Linked DNA regions of Homo sapiens. The protein of the gene in region 3 purifies or fractionates together with the protein of the main gene of each other region. This does not show direct contact. Each region holds a gene or a part of one and is shown on either strand. Other genes may lie near its edges.

Evidence for each region. The genes of interacting proteins can lie anywhere in the genome.
Region 1: the proteins of NPM1 (region 3) and MYBBP1A purify together in Homo sapiens (affinity purification with mass spectrometry; 5 studies listed by BioGRID and IntAct, with this or other methods). This does not show direct contact.
Region 2: the proteins of NPM1 (region 3) and RMP64 purify together in Homo sapiens (affinity purification with mass spectrometry; 6 studies listed by BioGRID and IntAct, with this or other methods). This does not show direct contact.

The regions. Positions count from the first base shown.
Region 1 is NC_000017.11:4,552,370-4,560,185, forward strand, and holds the start of MYBBP1A (myb-binding protein 1A), read right to left. Parts: upstream 3,016-7,816; 5' UTR 2,956-3,015; coding exon 2,758-2,955; intron 2,588-2,757; coding exon 2,492-2,587; intron 1,910-2,491; coding exon 1,826-1,909; intron 1,725-1,825; coding exon 1,650-1,724; intron 1,549-1,649; coding exon 1,441-1,548; intron 258-1,440; coding exon 82-257; exon of another isoform or gene 71-81; intron 1-70. Other genes in the region: GGT6 (glutathione hydrolase 6), read right to left, coding at 5,646-6,688, 6,974-7,087, 7,189-7,391. UniProt on the Homo sapiens protein: May activate or repress transcription via interactions with sequence specific DNA-binding proteins. Repression may be mediated at least in part by histone deacetylase activity (HDAC activity).
Region 2 is NC_000003.12:113,009,657-113,016,678, forward strand, and holds part of RMP64 (nucleolus and neural progenitor protein), read right to left. Parts: intron 4,377-7,022; coding exon 4,297-4,376; exon of another isoform or gene 4,293-4,296; intron 3,748-4,292; coding exon 3,616-3,747; intron 3,156-3,615; coding exon 3,078-3,155; intron 1,751-3,077; coding exon 1,389-1,750; intron 1,049-1,388; coding exon 987-1,048; intron 1-986. UniProt on the Homo sapiens protein: May play a role in cortex development as part of the Notch signaling pathway. Downstream of Notch may repress the expression of proneural genes and inhibit neuronal differentiation thereby maintaining neural progenitors.
Region 3 is NC_000005.10:171,383,767-171,390,861, forward strand, and holds the start of NPM1 (nucleophosmin), read left to right. Parts: upstream 1-4,082; 5' UTR 4,083-4,182; coding exon 4,183-4,240; intron 4,241-6,284; coding exon 6,285-6,364; intron 6,365-7,095. UniProt on the Homo sapiens protein: Involved in diverse cellular processes such as ribosome biogenesis, centrosome duplication, protein chaperoning, histone assembly, cell proliferation, and regulation of tumor suppressors p53/TP53 and ARF.

The sequences.
Region 1 (7,816 bases), on a different chromosome or scaffold from region 3:
CAGGCCAAACGACAAATCTGGGCCTGGCCAGATGCAGTCCCTTGGCCCCAGGGAGGGCAAATCCGCCCACCTCCATCACACCTGGGGACATTCTCATCTGAGAATAGGTTCACGGATCCCACCAGCTTCTTGAGCTTGGAGGGCACCTTCTGCTGGGCCAGGAGGAAGAGCTCTAGCTGTTCAGGGGAGCTGAGTATTATATTCAAGTCGGCTTTGAGGACCTCCGGCAGGATCTCCTGCAATGTGGCCTTCGAGACCTAAGGATGGAGGGAGAAGAAATCGTGACTTCCTCTGCGGGGTGAGCCTGGTGGATCCTGTTCTACCTGCTCCTGACACGGGGCCACCTGGTGAGGTATCAGAGTCATCAGAGGCCAGTTGCTAACAAAACTCAAATTCCCAGGCAGCGGGGTTTTTGACAAGCATCCCACTGACGCTAACTGGCCCCTGGAGGTACCTGCCCCCCACCCCTTATTTTTTTTTTTTAAGACAGAGTCTCACTTTGCCACCCAGGCTGAGTATAGTGGTGTGATCTTGGCTCACTGCAACCTCCGCCTCCCAGGTTGAAGCAATTCTCCTGCCTCAGGTGGGATTAAAGGTGTGCGCCATCACACCCAGCTAATTTTTGTATTTTTAGTAGAGATGGGGTTTCACCATGTTGGCCAGGCTGGTCTTGAACTCCTGACCTCAAGTGATCTGCCCACCTCGGCCTCCCAAAGTTCTGGGATTACAGGCGTGAGCCACCATGCCCGGTCAAAGCTACCCTTTTAATTATTCCTTTTTTTGGTATTTCAGAGTACTAGCTCATTTCATACACGAGGAGCCCTAGGTGGAGAGCTGGGATTCGAATTCAGGTCCTTCTGGCTCTGAGGTCAAGACTGCACAGTAAGCCCTGGCCTGGAGACCTGCTACCCCTGCCTTTCTCTTCGGTGACAAAAGGGCCTAGGGTGCTACCTTCCCAAGTAGGGCAGTGGAGGCCCACAAGGGGCCAGCCTTGACCAGGATAACAATGGCAAACGTTTTATATACTTGCCACGTGCCAGGCACAGTTCCAGAGCTGCACTGCCCAATACGGTAGCCACAGCCACACAGGGCTGCTGAGCGCCTGAAAGGTGGCTAATCTGAACAGGGGTGTGCCTAAGTGTAACATACACACTGGATTTTGGAGACACCTGACAAAAAGAGTGTAAGATATCTCAACACTTTTTTATACCAATGCACACTGAAATAATATTTTAGATATACCAGATAAAGTCAAATGTCACTAAATGTTACTAAATGACACCTGTTTCTTTTTACCTTTTCAACAAAGTCACTGAAACGCTTCAAATTATACATCTTTGTATTTCTATGGAACAGTGCTGTTCCAGATTCTCATCCGAGCCCCCTTGATGTCTCTGTAACAAAGTGTTGCCTGGGCCCGCACAGCTGGGGAGCTCATACCTCGGAGAGGATGTCCACCAGGGCCTTCCGGGGCTGCTCCTGCAAGTGGTTTTGGTACTGGGCCAGGGCCTGCAGCAGCTTCACCGACTTCATCAGTGCCTCCTGGTCCTGGTCCCCACAGAGGGACAGAGGGTATGAGCAGGGCACACGACTGTCCCCCACCCATCCCAAGCCAGCCTACATTCCCCCAGTCCCTCCAAAGCTCTTACCTTCACCAGCCGACCTGACTGAAAGAGGGCGAGCACTCCAAACAGGTTTGCAAAGAGAGCAGGTCTCAGCATTGCCTAGAAAAGGATTCCAGGCACAGGCATGAGGGGCCCTGGAACTCCCCATTCCCCAAGCCTCCCACCCCTGGGGCTGCTGACCTCCCTGGCCCCACTCTCACCTTCTTCACCTGATGCAGGTCATATTTTTCTTGTATCTGCTGCAGGATGCTGCACAAGGGGAGGTCTTCAAAAGACTGTAACAGCTGCCAGGAGTTGTGTGGCAGGAGGAAGAGGGTTCAGGAGAGTGGCCCAACTACGTCTTCACAAACCTTAACCTCCCTTCCCCCTTCAACTTCTCCCAAGAAGCCTCAGGTCCCTAGTCCCACCTTCTATGTACCTTCTATGGCCCCTAGATTACTAGTCTGAAATGCTCAGCCACTGGGTCTTCTCTCCGCACGTGGTCTGAGCTCCCCTCAGGCTGATCCTGCAGGCCTGGGTCTTTATTGCTCTGCCCCTTGTCAAGGCGCCTCAGAGAGTGGTCTACTCCAATCAGCTGAATGCCTCTGCAGGCCTAAGGGAGCCCACCCAGCGCTCACTGCTCCCAGAAAGTGTACCTAAGAGGCCGGGCAACCCAAGCACCAAATAGAAAACCTGGCCAGGCCTTGCTCACACCTTCTCCACTTTCATGAAGAGGCCTCCCTCAGGTTGGCCTCCAGTCTGCTCTGCCACTCCCGACCTCTCTCTCGGGCTGCCCCTCCGCCACAGCTGAGACACCACACCCGCCCTCCTCATACCCCACCATTTTGACCTGGATGGCTGGGACCCTGCCAGGAGCACCACCTCACCTGTGCCAGGGCCAAACTGTAGCAGGGCCGGGCTGTTTCTCGCCCGACCCCGAGTCCCGTGATTAGACGCTTCAGGGCATATTTCATCTCGGACCCCTGCGGAACCAAGCACACCCTCGTGTTCAATGGTGACAACAAGGTGCACGCCCCCGCGCACCCTGGCATCCAGGTTCGCGACCACGTGCCCCCAGTCTCAACTCCCTGGGCCCGCCGCCGCTTCCTTGCCGGGATATGCGCAGCCTCTGCCCCAGACCCCGCCACTCCACCTTCGGCCTGCCACGCAGATACTCCAGCAGCTTCTCCGTGGCCGCAAGTCGCGTCTCCTGCTCAGGCTTCGCAATGTCCCAGAAGAAGTCCAAGAACTCGCGACTGTGCTTCAATAGGCCATAGCGGTCGGCAGGCCGGGCGCCACTCTGCGTCGCTTCTCCAGGCGACATCGGCTGGGCGGGATCCCGGCTCTCCATCTCCGCCACACTCACCGAAACACGAAACACGTGTGCTCCGGCCCCAGCCGCTTCCAGGTCAGGGCACGGCGCATGCGCACCGGTTTGTGTCGGCTCGGAGGCGGAAGAACCCGGAGGGGCGGGGGAACCAAGAGAGACCGGCCCAGAGTTAAAAGAGCGGCATTTCCGCCGTAGCTCTGAGCGGAAGTCCCTCGCCTAGCGGCGTCCCATCTTTCCCAGCCTTCTGCTCACACCCGCTCCGCCCTGGCGGCTGTGGCATCTGCCCCTTTGGAGCCCCAGGGGGGCATTTCTAAGGGCCCATCTCGGAAACAAACCTAGGTGTAGCACTTCGATCCGACTCGTCCCAGAGCGGCCCCTGCGCTCCGAACATTGAGCCATTCAACAATTACTGGGCTCCTGCTGGCGTGCCGTGCTAGGCGGTTGGAACAAAGCCTCTGCTCTCGTGGAGGAACACGGAGCCAAATGCATTTAAAAAGATCATAATTATGAAGAGAATTAGGAATGCAAGGGTCAGGAGGAGGCTTTTAAGTGCTGGAACGTGAATACATCACCCGTTAAAAACACGGCTAATTACTATTCAATAGGGTCTCCAATAATGATTTGAGGGGTTGGTCAGGGAAGGCCTCTGTGAGGAAGTGGCATTTGGGATGAGAGCTGAGTGACAAGAAGGGCCCCCCTCCCCCGTACTCCTGCAAGGATCTAAGGGGACGAAATCCCAAGCCTTGCAACTACAGAGACCCAGGGCTGGAGGGGCTGAGGCTGGCGAGAAGCAAGGCTGCATGGGGCCCCGGGCTGGGATTTCATTCTGAGGGTGATGGGAAGTCACTGGTGAGTTTAATGCAGGGGCAAGCCTGGATCCGATTTACATTTTAACAAGATGATGCTGGCTGCTGTGTGGGGGATGGACTGTAGGTCTGCGCAGGTGGAAGCACGGGAAGACCATTTAGAGATAGTGGTGGACTGGACCCAGGGAAAATGAGAACAGGTCAGATTTGGGCTGATGTGGAGCAGGTGGGGTGGGTGATGGAGTTAGATGTCGGGGGAGAGGAAATGAGGGGGATGCCAGGTTTGAGACTGAAATAACTGGGTACATTGTGGTGCCATTACGGAGAAGAATTTTCTTGGGAGTGGGAGGTAAAGGTGGTGGGATCAAACGGTCTATTAAATCAGAGAAGCCTTTTACAATGGCAGGGGAGGGGAACTGCTACTGGTCACCCTCGCTTCTTGGTTTGAGAAGCTGTTTATAGAGGGCTGTGGTCCAGAGAGGACCTAACCCTTGGGGGAGGTCAGGGCTAACCTTCGCCTTGAATTTCCACACGCTCAACTCCAACCCCTTTGTACCCAAGCCCCTGGGGCGCCTTCTCACCCTCTCAGCCGCTTCCCTGCTTTGCTGTCTGTTCTAGAAAGTGAAATGAAAACATTCACCTTGCACATCTGGTGCCCCAGGAGGCAGGAGGTGAGCGGAGCAGGGGGAAGCTGAAAGATACCAACCCAGGCTCTCCCCTCTCTGGTTGTTGGTCACCTGTGCTGCCCATCAGGGAAGCCCTGACTCCAGTTGCTTCAAAAGCTGTTGGAAAATTAACCAAGAAGCAGGAATGGTGCTTGGTTTCCGGGAGACTTGATCTTTATTTTGTACCCAGTCTGGTTGAGGCAGATAGGTAAGGGGTGTCCTGAAGGGAAGGACAGAGATGCCAACAGTACCCTGGGCTCTGCCTGTCCTGCTTCGTGGGGCCCAGGGCCTAGGCAGAGGCTCTGCACTCTTTCCACTGTCCTCCTGAAAGCTGGATCTGAACTCAGTGCTAGCCCCAGGCCCTACTGCTTTTTCGTTATTACCCTGATTTTCTTAGCTGATAAAATAGCTAGAGATTCCATCCGGTGTGGGTGATCTGAAGAATGATTGTTAGCTCTGGATGCCAGAACTCAAGTCTAGGTAACTTAAAAGGCCAGAGGTTGGGGCCTGAGCCAGCAGTGAGCACATAATAAATCCTTTTTTTTTTTTTTTTTTTTAGACAGGGTTTCCCTCTTGTTGCCCAGGTGGGGTTGCAATGGTGCGATCTTGGTTCACTGCAACCTCCACCTCTCGGGTTCAAGTGATTCTCCTGCCTCAGCCTCCCAAGTAGCTGGGATTACAGGTGCCCGCCACCATGCCCAGCTAATTTTTTGTATTTTTAGTAGAGACGGGGTTTCGCCATGTTGCCCAAGCTGGTCTCGAACTCCTAGCCTCAGGTGATCCACCTGCCTTGGCCTCCCAAAGTGCTGGGATTACAGGCATGAGCCACCGCACCCAGCTATTTTTTTATTATTATTATTATTATTTTAAAGACAGGTTCTCACTCTGTTGTCCAGGCTGGAGTGCAGTGGTGTGATCCTAGCTCTCTGCAGCCTTGAACTCCTGAGCTCAAGCGAGCTTCCTGCCTCAGCCTCCCAAGCAGCTGGGACAACAGGCATGTGCCACCGCCCCTGGCAAATTTTTAAATTTTTAGTACAGATGAGATCTTGCTTTGTTGTCTAGGCTAGTTTCAAACTCCTGGCCTCGAGGTATCTTCCTGCCTTGACCACCCAAAGTGCTGAGATTACAGGTGTGAGGCACCACACCCTGCGGGTGCACACTCCATTGCTGCTGTGTCTGCTCTGCTCCTGCCCCCATGCTTCAGATAACTCTGCCTTCTGCCAGACCCACCCCCATCCTGTTAGAACCCCTGGAAGGGGCAGCAGGCATGGGGGACACTGGAGACATGGGCGTGCTCTGTGTGGGCTGCCACCTGGAGCAGGGTCCCTTGGCCACAAGTGCTGGGATGCTCTGTTGGTTCTTGCTGACCCTGATGCTGGTGCTGGGCCTGGGTAGGGGGCCTTGCTGCCAGATGCCTGAGTAGGGTGTGAGTCATGGCCCTGGCCACATCAGGGGTCCCTGAAGCCACAAGCCCCAACACATCAGCCTCTGTGTCATCCAGGCTGCCACGGAGGATGAGGGGGCAGGCCCAGGCACTAGTGGTAGACTTGGCCACCAGGTTGCTGAGCAGAACCCCAGTGCTTGGGGACAGGTGTGCAGAGCCAAAGGAGCAGTTGAGCGAGGAGGTGAGAAGGAGCACAGAGCCGCTGCTGTCCACGGCGGCCAGGGCACTGCTCTCGGGGCTCACAGCAGTCTGCAGGAACGGTGGGCAGGGGTCAGGGATGGGCGCCCCGGAGCGCAGGGCTGCCTCCAACAGTGCCAGCAGTTCTGGGCCAGCTGAGGGACTGGGGGTGGTGAACAGGATGCCCTGGGGCACAGGTAGCTGCTCTGCTGGTTCCAAAGTGGGCCTGGGCACAGCCGAGGGCACCTCCACCCCCAGGTCTCCCGCCAGTAGACTCAGTAGAGCATCCCCAGCAAGGTCTGAGGTGGGAGCGAGGGCTGCGCTGCGAAGCACAGCTGCCAGTTGTGGGTTGGTGGCTCGGGCCCCAGCGCCCAGGGGTGTCCCATCAGCATGGCAAAGTAGTGGACAGAGGCCTTCTGTGCCCCGAGCCACCAGAGCCCTTGCCAGGGGTGTGTCCACCAGGAAGCCCTCCTGAGCCAGCGTGGTGGGGCCCACTAGCAGGCGTGGCCAGGGCAGGCGGCCGAAGCGTGCATGCAGCAGGTGCAGGGTGGGCAGAGCCGCGGGCAGCCCCAGGCCGGGGGCCAGGGTCTGTGCTGGGCCTGATGTCAGGGCCGTGGAATTGCCTGAGGAGCTATCGTGGAAGAGGCCCCAAAACATGGCACCTGCAGGAGACAGAGGGGTCCCTCAGCAGCCGCAGGTCAAGGGTCACTGACTTGTTTCAGTCAAGATCCCTTGACTGAGCCTGGGATCAGGAGTTACTGACCAGGCCTGAGGTCAAAGTTCCACAGACCCGGGCTCAAGGGTCATAGCCTGGGGTTGGACTGCTGCCCAAACCCTAAGTCCTGCTCACTTAGCAGTCTTGAGGTCAGTGCTACTGACTCCCTAAGTTCCAGGTCACTGATCAGGCTGTGGGTTGGGGTTGCAGTCTGGGGTCAGGGGTCACTGACCTAGCCCCGTGGCATGAGGATGCACCACTGCCAGGCACAATGCAGCTCCAACTCCAGCATCCACGACGTTGCCCCCGGCAACAAGCAGCTCTCGGCCTAGGTGGGAGCATGTGGCTGCAGCAAGGAAGGCACTGTCATGCAGCAAGGAGGGGGGCTAGGCTGGGCTGGTGACCCCTGACCCTCCCCTCCCCAAGCCGCCCCCAGCACTGACTGACCTGCAGGGCTGATGATGGCACCGTGGTGGTATACGCCAGGGCCGTGGGAGTGTCCGCCGGGTGGAGGGGCCACAGAGCCCAAGCTTCCTGTCGACCTGCCCTGATTCTGGAGCTGCCTCACAGCCAGGGAGCAGCCAACAGCCAGCAGCAGCAGGGCTGCCACTACACGGGCCCAGGTTCCGGGCAGCCCGCCAGCCTTGTTCCTGCAGAGGGGGGGTGTCCTGAGCCACGGCTGGGACAGAGGGATGCCCAAGGACCCCAAGAGACCCCAGGGAATATTTCCCAAAAGGTTTGATTTAGCAAGAGGAGCACAAGTCAGCCAAGGAGAAAGGGCTTCTTGGCAGCGGGTGCATCTTGGGCAGACATGGGGATGGGAAAGCATCTGGGGAAACTGAGCCTAGCTAGGGAGGGAGCCTCTGGAGGGGAGATTGGTGGGGCAGAGTCCACTCAGGTGGGAGGGAGGCCCAGTGGGGTGTGGCAGGCAGGAGAGAAGGGGCTGGGGAGCAGGCCCAGCCAGGCGTAGTCAGGCCCCAACCTGCCCAGCAGGTGCCTCCTGCACCAGGACTTGGGGGCTGGGGACCTTTGACAAAGCAGCAGATGGGACAGAGGCTGGCTTGGTACAAATGTC
Region 2 (7,022 bases), on a different chromosome or scaffold from region 3:
CACTATGTGGCCTGGCAGTTTCTTGGCCTTTCTATGCCTCAGTTTCCTCATCTGAAATATGAAAACAGTAATAAGCATGCCCACCTCACAGAGCTTTTGTGATATAATTACATGACTTCATGCATATAAAAGCACTTAGAACAATGCCTGGCACAGAAAGTATTACTCCTCACTCTGAATTCATAAATTGGACAGAACATCAATGGAAGCTGGAGTCCTTAAGTTCAAGAAAATATGTTTAAGAATTCTTAAATAAAAGAAGTAAACTAACCCATGAAAAATACCAGAAGTAGACATTTTGCAAAGACAGGGTTAAAAAAAAAAAAAAGTCAAGTTACTGAGTAAAACAGTAATGCCGATGTACTTATATGCTGTTAGGTCCAGAACAAACAGAATTTACAGACATTAATCAATCATGTTAAAACTTGAACCTCAACAGGAGTAAAGGAATAGCTTCATGACAAAATGATGAGGATGATGACCAAAATGACCGTAGCTAATAACATCTAACTCCAATTAAATGCTTACCATACTCCAGACTACCGAACGCTTTACATGCATTAAAACTAGCACAACCCTATGAGGCACATATTACTATTACAAAATAGAGGTACGGAGAGATCAGGAAACTCACAGAAGGTCACACAGCTAGTACCAAAGCCAGGATTCAAACCAACTGTCTGACTGCAAAGCCTATACTCTTAAGCTGCAGTACAATCCATACTTAACAACAGATCTTACGGTTACTTTAAAATTCTAGAGAAACTCCTACTAAAATATTTCTGAAGGTACTCTATTAACTGAATTAACTAGATGTATTAAAAATCCCTTGCCTCTATTCATTCAGAAGCACACACTGACAACTAAGAAGGCACTAAGCTTAGAGCTGGGGATAAAATGAAAAGATTCAATCTCTGCCCTTGGTAAGAAGCATCCTCTACAAATTAGCAGAAATCATAAGCTAAATTTAATGAAGCCAGACAAACCTGAGTAGCTTTGTGTTTCAGCTGGTTGCAGAAAGCCCTCACATCAAATTCTGATGACTCTTCTGTGGAGGTGGAAAAATTGCAGATACAAAACCTTAGGCATACTATTTTCAAATCTACAACAAATTCTTAAGTGCATGACATTTCTTGCCAAATTACCACAAAATAAAGGAATAAAGCAAGCAAATAACTAGGAAGCAACTACAGAAACAAATAAACAACTTAAAGTACTCAAGCTTAGAAAGCACAGGTATTACCATACCTCTCTAATCAATATGAGTCAAAATTAAGATGTGAGATGTTGAATTTCTTTCTATGCAATGCATGACTATTACTTTCAAAAGGTTTCTTTTTATTTGTTTTTTGTTTTACTAGAGTATGTGCTGTATCAAAGCAAATTACCTTTGAAGACTCTCTTATTCTTTACTGGCTGTCCAAGATCCACATTATTCTGTACATTGATCTTCATTTGTTTAGCTTTTTTTGAAATTCCAAGCAAGGTTTCTTCACTGGCTCTTGGTGACTGCTCATTTATTAAAAACAGTTTATTTAGCAATTTATTTATTCCTTTAGCTGCAAAAGCTATAGGCATTTTTTTCTTAAAGGCTTCAAAATATGGCTGTCCTAAAAATTCAGTGATATCAGAAGGAAAGGTAAAATCTTTGAAGTAAGGCATTGGTTGAATCCTAGCGACCTCTTGAAGCAATCCAAACAAAGGCTCATATAACAAAATCAACCTTTTTAAGACACCTTTATAGAGAACCCTAGAGAAAGAAATAGGAGCTCATTAATTAGCCAGTAATTACAATTTGCAGATTACATAATAAACTGCAAGATTGAAAGCTGAAAATAAATGGCTATCAAGGTCCTCCAGTACAGATAAAAAACACTATAGTGCACACTTGCGAACAGCCAGATTAGTCCAACCCAACAGAAAAATCCAAGTATAAAATGTTACTCAAAAAACTGTAAGACAGTCTACCAGGAAAGATATATATATATTCAAAAAGTACTACATGGAGAAATGTACAAAAGGATGCATATCAAAGTTTTAAGTGTGGTAGATGGTGAGATTTTAGGCAAATTTCAGGTTCTTCACATTTCTCTTTTTAAATTTCTTAAAACAGGCATGTATTATAATCAGCAAAAATTAAAGCTATTTTCATTACAGAAGAGAGTATCAAAGGTTTAGCATTTTAAAATAATATGATTAGTAATCAAACATTGTTACCTCTGATTAAGAATAAGTAGAATAAAAAATAAAACAATAGGAAATACTATTTGAGATATCCAGGTTAAGATATCAAAGCAAGGTTTTCAATCTCTAAACACAGAAACTTTTTTTCTTTTCTCCATCCAATGTTTTCTTACATTCATATTAGAACTAATAATCTTAATTGTTTGAAATGGCCCAAAACAGGCCTTCTTACAGATACGGGCAAATTCTAATTATCCATCAGATCAGTTTCACAATATGTACTGAGAGACATGAAAGAGATGTCTCTTTAGTTTCCAAGTATTACCAGCATACATCAACTAAATATGCTCAAAAAAGCAGTGGTGTTTGAGATGGAAGAAAATAGTCTAGCACATAAGAAGGTCAAAAATTGCATTTATCATTGCCATTAAAAATTAGAAACCGAGTGACAGAAAGAATCAAGTGATACAGCCAGCCCAGGATTAGCATCATTTTAAACGGCCTGTTGCAATATGACTACTACCAACAATTTTTTATTACTGCAATTCCCAGTCACAGGCATTAATTTTTTTAATGTTCAGTAAAAGCCCACTGATGTTTCACTACAACCTACCATGACCCAGATTTCAGTGTGACACCAGTCACTCCCGATTTTTTTAGTTGTTCAGTGATTGGGCTGATCTTGTGGATTGAGATACAAAGCCTACTCCTTTGATACAGCCATCAGCACTCGGCTTCCCAATCTACCCTCAAAAAACTCTGATCAAACCAAGAAAGAGAATACCTGCACCTTCCATAACCCCATAAGAAAATAAGTTTGAAAACTACTAATAAGAAACCTAGGCTGAAAGGAGATGAGAAAGAAATGAAGGATGTCAGAGGTATGTACATACCATAACCTGCTCACCAGCCCAACCATCACAAGGTTTAAAATAATGAACTCTTGCAAACCTAGATGTTTCACAGTCAAACTGGAAAATCAATTTAAGGTAGAAAACAAAATCAAAGTAATGTGGGTTTTGTAAGTTACAATCATGAATGAAGAAATATATTGGAAGTAAAGAGAATTTTCTTAAAGGTATTAAAGCCTTAAAACACATTCTATTTAAGAATTTAAAACTTTAAAATATGGTTATAAACACTCTGCTAGAGTTCCCATTATTAAATTTAGTTCTTAAAGTTTAGTTTCTAAGATTAAGAATTTCTAGCTATCAATGCTCTTAGGATAATACGTGCTGAACAGTGACAGGCAGTCTCTGGCAATGGCTGCATCAGGCAATTCCTGAGAAAAGGAGGCCAAGAAGCAAAAGTTTAAGAATTCCTGTAGGTTGTAACTCCTATGGAGTGTTAGCTTTCAAACAAAAATACTGTTAAAAATATCCAAACAATTCCAAATCAAAAGAAGGTATATTTCAAGATATTCAAGGATACAGAAAAGTTTTGCAGCAGCAGTCCAACAAGCGGAGCAACAACTTGCAGGCTCCCAAAACCTTCATCAACACCAACTCCACCACTGGCTGACTGGGGACAACACATACTTTGGTAGTTAAGGGCTGATTTTCACTTGAAAAAAATAGAAAAAGTACATTACTTTCACTTAAAAAAAAAGGGTTTTTTTTTTGTTTTTTTTTTTTTTACATTTACCAGTTTATTATAAAGGATATGACAAAGGATTGAAACAAAGAGATGCATAGGGCAAGGTATGGCAGAAGAAGCACAGAGCTTCCATGTCCTCCCTGGGCGACCCTTCACATTTTCAGCTATGTGCAAGCTCCCATTACTTTCATTTTTAAATATAAAGCATTTCTATAGCAGTTTTCAAGTGAAGACTTGCTTTAAGCTCAACTTGAGGTAGTTAAGCACAATAACAGCCCACTGATGTTTTAATATAATCTACCATGACCCAGATTTCAATGTCACACCAGTCACTCCCATAGATCAATGTCAGAAGATTACCACAAACACCAGGTACCCCACATTAAAACAAAATTTATACAGCTGAGGTATAATTGGTTATATTCCAACAGCAAGCATAGAGAAATCCAAAGGGAGATCACAAGACATTGAGTTCCCAGCCCACCACATCACAAAGCAACTGGACCACTTACTTACTTGGAAGAAAACAACTCAAACAGGTCTTGAATTGAGCCCTCCAAATTCATGTTTTTCAAACGCTTTAAACATTGCTCAACCTGAAAGAAGAAGAGCAGTTCAAATTCATGTGTATGTAATGCAGACAGGGTCACTGATTATGACCAGGAAAGCAAAGACTTCTAGATTTTCAAAGTATGGAAATATGCTAAATATCACAGAATACCTTATTTTTTTTCAGGGTAGAGAAATCCAAAGCGCAAGCAATTGCTTCTAGTTACAAATTTGGAATTTATCCAGCCAAACACATTTTTAAAATCAGGTGACTCCTAAGAAATTAGTATATGCCACAATGAGCTTGATGTCATAAAAGGGACCAAAACGAGTATAGGTTATTCTCAAGATTATAATTTTGCTAAGACAAGATTTTTTTTTTTTTTTTCAGATGGAGTCTCACTCTGTCGCCCAGGCTGCAGTGCAGTGGCGTGATCTCGGCTCACTGCAAGCTCCACCTCCTGGGTTCACACCATTCTCCTGCCTCAGCCTTCCAAGCAGCTGGGACTACAGGCACCCGCCACCACGCCAGGCTAATTTTTTGTATTTTTAGTAGAGACGGGGTTTCACCGTGTTTGCCAGGATGGTCTCGATCTGGACCTTGTGATCCGCCCACCTCGGCCTCCCAAAGTGCTGGGATTACAGGCATGAGCCACCGCGCCTGGCCGACAACATGATTTTTAATAGTGAAACTATTAAAACAAGATAGAAAATTATTAACTACTAAATTTCAACAGTCTATAAAGTACCACAGAGATGAGGAAAACGATTGGCTTTAATCACTGAACAAATATATTCTTTGATTAGATGAAGCTTGTTCTTATGTTCCTCTGCATCTTCTCTCTTTCTCCCTTCTCTCTCTTGGGTTTTTTTTCTCTTTTGAACCGCAGTTCACTTACTATGTTTTCCAAGTGCTTTACCATCTGGGTTTGTCAATACCTCCCTCAAAGGATGGTGTCCAGACTTGAAAACTGAAAAAGATAGGAGCTGACCCTAAAGAATTTAAGGATTGTTCCCTCCATTATTCTTGAAAACCGCTGTTAAAACAGAATCCATAACCTTGGTTCAATTTCTAGAAGTATATTTGCAGCTCTGGCAAGATACTCTTGTTGCCAGTATCAATGCCCATCCAAATTTTTGTATCTGTCTAGATGCAGTCCCATGCTGCCCTTTGTGTGTTATTCCTGAGGACTACAGAATTCCTACAGCATTTTGTACCATGCATGGCTCTTACTTTTTTTAAAAAAAATTAAAAATCCTATTGAGTGCTTACTGAACACTGTTCTAAGAACTGGATTATGGTGGTAAACAAAAGGGACAAAATACATTGCCCTTGTGGAGCTTACATTATAGCTGGGAGAGAAAGGCAGTCAATCAATGGCAGGTGGTGTTAAGTGCTATGAAGACAAATAAGGCAGAGAGGGAGTGCTGAGAAGATTGCAATTTTAAATAGGGTCTGTTTTTATTTTAGCATTTAATTAAATATTTTACATGTCTTCCTATTTTTACTACTAGATTTTTAGCAACTAGAGATAGGGAAGTTTCTAATACCACTTTATCTGCCAGCATGCCCTACATGTACTCCACAGAACAGGAATCAAAACTACTTTCTGTGTTCCATTTAGGGGAATGTTTAGAGACAGGCCAATTCTAGTACTTACATGAAAGTTCTCTGAAAACTGTGAAATATTAAGCAGTTGTAAGGCAGTAGTAGAAGTGGTAATAGCAGCTGCAGCAGTAACATAAGCATAAAACATGTTTCCTACTTCAGGGATCACATGGAATATAAAATATATACACAAATAACTTTACCATGACACAGACTATATTAAATGCTATAAGTACAAAGAGGAGGCCCAAATAGCCAAGAATTTAAAAAAAAAAAAAAAAAAGCAACTTCAGTAATAATCAGAAAAATACAACTTAAAATGAGATTACTATAACACAGATTATCACTGCCAGAAAGGCTTAAAATGGGACTTAGAGGATAGGAAGGCCTTTAACAGGCAGACATGGTGAGGCTGGGCATTCTAAACATACAGGACCAGGTAAGCAGACTCAGAAGCAGGAACAAACATAGTGAGCATGCAGGTGTGTTGAGTCCAGGTTGGCTGGAATATAATCTATCTGAACGCAAGAGAGAAGCCCGAACTAAGAAGACTGAAGAGGCCAGATCACAGATCTCGTAAGCCAAACTAAGAAGTTTGGTCTTTACTCAGGACACAATGGAGAACGACTAAAAATCAAAGTTGTGTTTTCAGATGATTAACCTGGTTTTAATATTTAGAATATGCCAGAACTTAGGAAAAGCTGAAGGAGGAAACATCAGTTATGATAGTAAGACAACTAAAAGTTGACAAGGTCTAAGAAAGGAAAATGGCAGCCAGAACTGAAGAGGGGACCAGATGCAGAGGAAGTTTTGTCTTATGGACTGCCTGGATGGGAGAGCTACGTAAGAGAGAGAGACTAGAGAATGCCAAATTTTGATGACGGGGTGATTATTCACAACCCAGAAGCTAGAAGGAGAAATATATTCACTTTGAGGGTTAGCAAGCTTGCTTTTGGATCAAAAAGACTCCGAAAAAGATAAAAGCCACCCTAGAATGGAAAATTTAGGGAAAGACCATGGTCCCAGATCTTTCTTTGATGAAATCTTCACCCTGTTTGCTTTAAGTACTAGGGGTAGAAAACTA
Region 3 (7,095 bases):
CTCAACGAATTTTAAAATTTTTTGTAGAGATGGGGTCTCCCTGTTGCCCAGGGTGGTACAAATTATTTTTGGCCAGGCATGGTGGCTCACACCTGTAATCCCAGCACTTGGGGAGGCTGAGGTGGGTGGGTTGCTTGAGCTCAGGAGTTCAAGACCAGCCTGAGCAACATGGTGAAATCGTCTCTACCAAAAATACAAAAAATTAGCTGGGCATAGTGGCCTTTGCCTGCAGTCCCAGCTACTTAGTAGGCTGAGATGGGAGGATCACTTGAACCTGGGAGGCGGAAGTGAGCCGAGATCACCCCACTGCACTCCAGGCTGGGTGACAGAGTGAGACCCCATCTTAGAAAGAAAATTATTATTATTATTTTTTGAGACGGAGTTTTCACTTTTGTTGCCCAGGCTGGAGGGCAATGGTGCAATCTTGGCTCAATGCAACCTCCGCCTCCCAGGTTCAAGCAATTCTCCTGCCTCAGCCTCCCAAGTAGCTGGAATTACAGACATATGCCACCACACTCAGCTATTTTTTTTTTTTAATTTAGTAGAAACAGGGTTTCATCATGTTGGTCAGACTGTTTTCAAACTCCTGACCTCAGGTGATCCACCTGCCTTGGCCTCCCAAAATGCTGGGATTACAGGTGTGATCCACTGCACCTGGCCGAAAACGATTTTTTAGGGTAATCAAATAATTGATCAAGAAACATTCTCCTTTACAGAAGATTACAGACTGAGATTACAGGCATGCCACCACGCCTGGCTAATTTTGTATTTTTAGTAGAGACGGGATTTCTCCATGTTGGTCAGGTTGGTGTTGAACTCCCGACCTCAGGTGATGCGCCCTCCTCGGCTTCCCAAAGTGCTGGGATTACAGGCGTGAGTCACCACACCCGGCCAGGAACATGTTAAATGACAACATGACTCAAGGTAATGTGTAGACCTTGTTTTGATCCTTATTCAAGCAAATCAACTGTAAGAGACAGGGGTATTTGAACTGGGTAATTCATACTATTAGAAATAAATATATCTATTTTGAGATGGAGTCTCACTCTGTCACCCAGGCTGGAGTGCACTGGCTCAATCTCAGCTCACTGCAACCTCCATTTCCTGGGTTCAAGTGATTTTCCTGCCTCAGCTTTCCAAGTAGGGAGAGACAGCTTTAGTAAATATCTTTGTACCTATATAATTATTAATGTCTGAAAGTAGTTTTGTAGAGTATTCTAAGAAATGGATTTGCACAGTAAGTAGAGCAGGCACTTACAAATATATATACAGTACATATAAATGCTTCTTTTCTTTTTTCTTTTTTTTGGTTGGTTGGTTGGTTTTTTTAGAGACAGGCTCTCACTCTGTCACCCAGGCTAGAGAGTAGTGGTGTGAACATGACTCACAGCAGCCTTGACTTTCCAGGCTTAAGATCTTCCCACCTACCTCAGCCTCCTGAGTAGGTGGAACTACAGGCATGTGCTACCACACCCGGCTAATTTTTTCTGTTTGTTTGTAGAAACAGGGTCTCACTATGTTGCCCAGGCTGGTCTTCAACTCCAACCCCTCCTGCTTCAGCCTCCCAAAGTGCTGGGATTACAGGCATGAGCCATTGCACCTGGCATTCACTGTTTACGTAAGCAGGGTCGTATTATATATATATTGTTCTCCAACTTTGCTTTTTTACTTCATGTGGCATAGCTATCTTTCCAGGATATAATATATAGGGGACCACTGTATTCTTTTTAGAAGTTGCACAGTATTCCACAGGATAAACTGATATACCATTTTTTAAATACAAGTTTTATTTTAATCTTCATTTTTTAACACATTTTATCATGGAAATTTTCAAACAAGAACAAAAATAGAAGGAATCCTATGATGAACAACCATATACCCATCACCCAGTTTTAACAATTATCATCATGTAGTCAATCTTATTTCATATATACCTTCCCACTCTCCTTTCTCCTCCCCTTTTGCTGGATTGTTTTTTTTTAAAGTCTCAGATAAGGCCGGGCGCCATGGCTCACGCATGTAAGTCCAGCACTTTGAGAGGCTGAGGCGGGTGGATCACTTCAGGTCAGGAGTTCGAGTCCAGCCTGGCCAACATGGTGAAACCCCATCTCTACTAAAAATACAAAAATTAGCTAGGCGTGGTGGGGGGCGCCTGTAATCCCAGCTACTTGGGAGGCTGAGGCAGGACAATCACTTGAACCCAGGAGGCAAAGGTCACAGTGAGCCAAGATCATAACACTGCACTCCAGCCTGTATGACAGAGCGGGACTTCGGTTTCAAAAAAAAAAAAAATTAAAATAAAAAATAAAACAGTGGCCGGGTGTGGTGACTCACGCCTGTAATCCCAGCACTTTGGGAGGCCAACATGGCGAAACCCTGTTTCTACTAAATATACAACAATTAGCTGGACGCGGTGGCAGGCACCTGTAATCCCAGCTACTTGGGAGGCTGAGGCACGAGAATTGCTGGAACTCAAGAGGCAGAACTCGTGAGTCAGAGATCTTGCCACTGCACTGCAGCCTGGGCAAGAGAGCGAGACCCCGTTTAAAAAAAAAAAAAATGCTGGCTGGGTGCGGTGGCTCACGCCTGAAATCCCAGCACTTTGGAAGGCAGAGACAGGCGGATCACCCGAGGTCAGGAGTTTGAGCCCAGCCTGGAGAACACAGCGAAACCCCATCCCTCCTAAAATACAAAAATTAGTCGGGCGTGGTGGCATGCACCTGTAGTCCTCGCTACTCGGGAGCCCGGGAGGCGGAGGTTGCATCCAGCGGAGATCACGCCACTGCACTCCAGCCTGGACAACACAGCGAGACTCTGTCTCCACACACACACAAAAAAAGGCATAACAAATTTAAGTGACTCAAAGCTTTATGTGACACAGGAGCTCTCAGAAAGGAACAGTTAAATTATAACATGTCCATATTATGCGTTAGTATGTGTCCACAACTAACCCATAATATGGACATGTTATAATTTAACTGTTCATTCCTCTCTTGATAGACACTGAAATCGTCTCTATAATTTTCCTGTAAGAAATAATGCCTTGGGGTGGGGGTGTCTTCCTTTCTGAGGCTATCATTTGTATTCCTCACTTCTTAAATTTGTTTGATATGTTGAGGCTTAAAAAAAAAAGATTACGGGTCTTCAGAACGCCCCAATGCCCGCGGGGTGCTGGGGTGCCTCGGAGTTTGTCAAGGTGTAGCTTAAAACGTTAATTCCCATGCTCGCTCCCAAATATTCGAATTAAGGCTTCTGTAGTTCTTACAAGTCACCCGCTTTCTTTCAGGAGGAATGTTAAAGATTAAGAGCGGCAAGAAGTCAGAGTCGGCCCACCCTCCGAGCTCTCTTAGGGCGATGTCCTTGCTAATTTGGAGACTGATTCAGTCCCCTTTTGGCCCCCAAGTTACGTAAAGATAAGGACTTTGGAGATGTTTTCTCAGGAAGGACAGAGCTGAAAAACAAAGTTCCGTAAGTCTGGCCGGTAACTACATCTTTCCTTCCTAACAAAGAATAAGCCGCAATTCACTCTCTCTGGCACCTGAACTTTGGGGTAACGATTAACTGCGATCCGAAGCCTTCAGGCAAGTAAAAAATTCCTGAAGTGATTACGCCTGTTTGGAGGCTTGCAGGGCACTAGGGGATGGGGAAAGGTGAATCGAGGTGCTCTCTGGCTCATTCGCAGCCGGCTAACCCGCCATATCTTACACAGCTAAGGGCTGCCGACGCCATTTTGCAGGGTGGGCTGCGCAGACTCTTGGCGGGAGGCCGGCGCGCTTGAGCGGGAGAGGACGTGGAAGGGTTGGAGGTGGGGAGTGCGCGTTACGACTGGAAAGCACGCGTGCGCACAGGCGACAGCAGCGGAGGGGTGGGGCCAGTGTACGAGTGCGCGTGCTCGGTGGGAGCCCGCGGAGTACCTGGAAGGAGGTGGGGGCGAGGTAGAAAGGAGTGGGGTTGAAAAGCGCTTGCGCAGGACGGCTACGGTACGGGGGTGGGAGGGCTTCGGAGCACGCGCGCGGAGGCGGGACTTGGGAAGCGCTCGCGAGATCTTCAGGGTCTATATATAAGCGCGGGGAGCCTGCGTCCTTTCCCTGGTGTGATTCCGTCCTGCGCGGTTGTTCTCTGGAGCAGCGTTCTTTTATCTCCGTCCGCCTTCTCTCCTACCTAAGTGCGTGCCGCCACCCGATGGAAGATTCGATGGACATGGACATGAGCCCCCTGAGGCCCCAGAACTATCTTTTCGGTAACTGCTGGGGGGAGCTGGAGCGAGGCCGAGCGGGGCCTGGTGGCGGTGAGGGTGGGGGTGAGGGGCGGGAATCCGGCTGCAACCGGGTCTGGTGGAGACCGCCAGACCGACGGGAGGCCTGAGCGGGTGGGAAGAGCTGCCTGAGCCCTGGACCTGGAGGGATTGGAGCCGCGGGGGGAGCCGGTGGCGTGAAGGGGGAGGAGACGAGCGGCCTGAAGCGTCTGGGGCGTGAGCGGTCCGAGGCCCGGGGCCTGAGGTAAAGTGGAACCGGCCGCCTGGAAGTTCGGCCTTTGCCGGGGATACGTGGCGGAGCTCCAGGCGTGGTTTATTTTCTAACGGCGGTGGTTCATAGGCTTCTGATGCCAGGCCCCGGGTTGGTGGTCCTGGAGGCTGGGTTCACCGGGAAGCATGGGCCTGCTTGTTGGAGCGGGTAGATGCACAGCCTGGCGTTATTCTGGCCTCAGAGCCTGGAGCTGCCGGACGTAGACTTACCTCGCGTGCTTCGGCCAGTTACTGGGGGTGGGGAGGCGCGGCGCGGCGTGAGGAGGCCGCAACCGCTGGGAGCACGTGGTTGCCACGTGGTTGGGGGAGGGAGGGGGGTGTGGGCGCTACATCCGGGACTCACCGGCGTGTTGCCACTCGTGAGCCAGGGATGCTGTGGCTCTGTTGAAGTGGGAAATGTTAAGAGGCTGGTAGCACTAGGGTTCTGGAGGTCTTTGTTCAGTGCTTACAGCATGTACTGTGATGGCAGCTCTCATTTTTTTGAGCCCCTTTTCTGTCTCACTGCGGTAGGTGGAGCTAGCCCCACTTTGCAGATGAGGATACTGGTGCCCAGAGATAAACTCACTTAACGAAGGTTGTACTTAGTAAAGGCAATAAGAGACTAAATCTAAACCAAGACGCTTGACTCCGTAGCTGCTGCTTCGTGAATATTAATGAGGCTTCGTTTTAGGGGGACGTCCTCGCATGCCGCCATTTGTGCGGCATTGACCAAACTGCTTTTCTAAATACAAGAAACACGTAGAGTGTTCGGTTTGAGTCAGATCAAGACCTAAGACTATTCGCAGAATTTTGGGAGCACCACCCCCCTCGACTTGCGGTAGTCCTGCCCCAAAAAGGAGAGTCCCACTTGGGTTTTTGATCTCAGTAGGATTAATTGCAGAAGCCTAATCTTTGTACTATTCAGACTTTGAAGTAAATGCAAATCCTACCGTGAATTTTATCTTGTTCATTATCCGTGCTGAGATTTGTTAATTAAACGTCTGTTCACATTTAAGCATGTATATGTATTGGTAACGGTTAGATGATAGTTAAATGGAATCATTTAAAATTTTTATTCTGACAGTGTTTTGAAGAATTTTGCCCATTCATGGAGTGAGAGTAGACATATGTATTCAAAACATTAAGGCTTTAATTCCTAGTTATTTTGGATAGCTGAGAATTCTGGTAAATTTATATCAGTACTTTTTGATAACTATCGGAAAGAACCCTCCTTGTCTTAAACATAATTTCTGAATATAGTTTGAGGCGTATGTCACTTTCTGTTGCTTTAAAGAGTGGAGTGTTGATCCCTGTAGCAAACTTCGGTTCTTTTACTTTTGTCATTTTTCTTTTGTAATAGTAAGCTATTCATGTTTGTAACCGTTCTCATTTCGAAATTGCCATTTGGGAATTTAGGTAGGTAAATCAGCTGTTTTAAATAGTGGGAAACTTAACATTGGACATTACATTTGGTTTCAGATAATTGCTTCAGGTTGAGATTTACTAAACCATTGAGCTTGTTTATGCAGAATAACAGTACCTATCAGCGTAGTTAGAGATGAAATATGGTATGATGAGAGAATGGAATTATAGTCTTTTATGGGTGTCTGTAGAGGTTTCTGTTCAAGAAATCTAGGAATTGATCATTCTGCTTTGCCCTCTGGTAGCTAAAATAGTGAAAAACTAGTTCAAAAGTTAGACCTGACCTTTTTGGTTACCCACACTTAAGTTTCAGTGTTATTTTTCTCCTTGTTAGAGTTGCTTTTTTCTTCATTTACAGGTTGTGAACTAAAGGCCGACAAAGATTATCACTTTAAGGTGGATAATGATGAAAATGAGCACCAGTTATCTTTAAGAACGGTACTTAAACTTTCAAAATAAACTACTTAACCCTACTTGATTTCAGCCTTTTAGTTTCTATTCATGTGGCTTGAGACTTTTTTTCCTTTGCTGACTGCTTATAAAATACTATTTCTTACACCTGGGTATTGTGTGTACCTCACTGTCTGTACATCTTTGAAGAACTTGGCATCTATACCACTCATTTGGTAACCATGTAAATTCCAGTCACACTGTTCAACTTGCCTTATTTTCTTCAGTTGAATTACAAAGCCCTTGTAAAAGGCATCGATAATCTTTCATGTCTACCAGAGACTAGCCTTCTGCTCAACTTAGAAGTTGCTCAATAAATATGTTAGGTGGTCTATATTGTGTGTATGCATATTTATGCATTTCTTAAATTTTCTGAATATGAGAAACTGATTTGCCAAGATCACAAAACCTGAGGACAACATTGCACAAATTTGTTTTCCAGGGTAATAGTGAGAGGTTTATACTTGTTTTTTAAAAAAATCACAGTCATGTGCCTCATTGCAACTGCTGGGTCAACAGATGGATCGCATATACAATGGTGGTCCCATAAGATTATTATACCTTATTTTTAATATACCTTTCCTGTTTTTTTTTTTCTTTGGAGGCAGTCTCGCTCTGTCACCCAGGCTGGAGTGCAGTGGTGTAATCTCGGCTCACTGCAACCTCTGATTTCCGAGTTCAAGTAATTCCCTGCCTCACCCTCCCGAGTAGCTGGGATT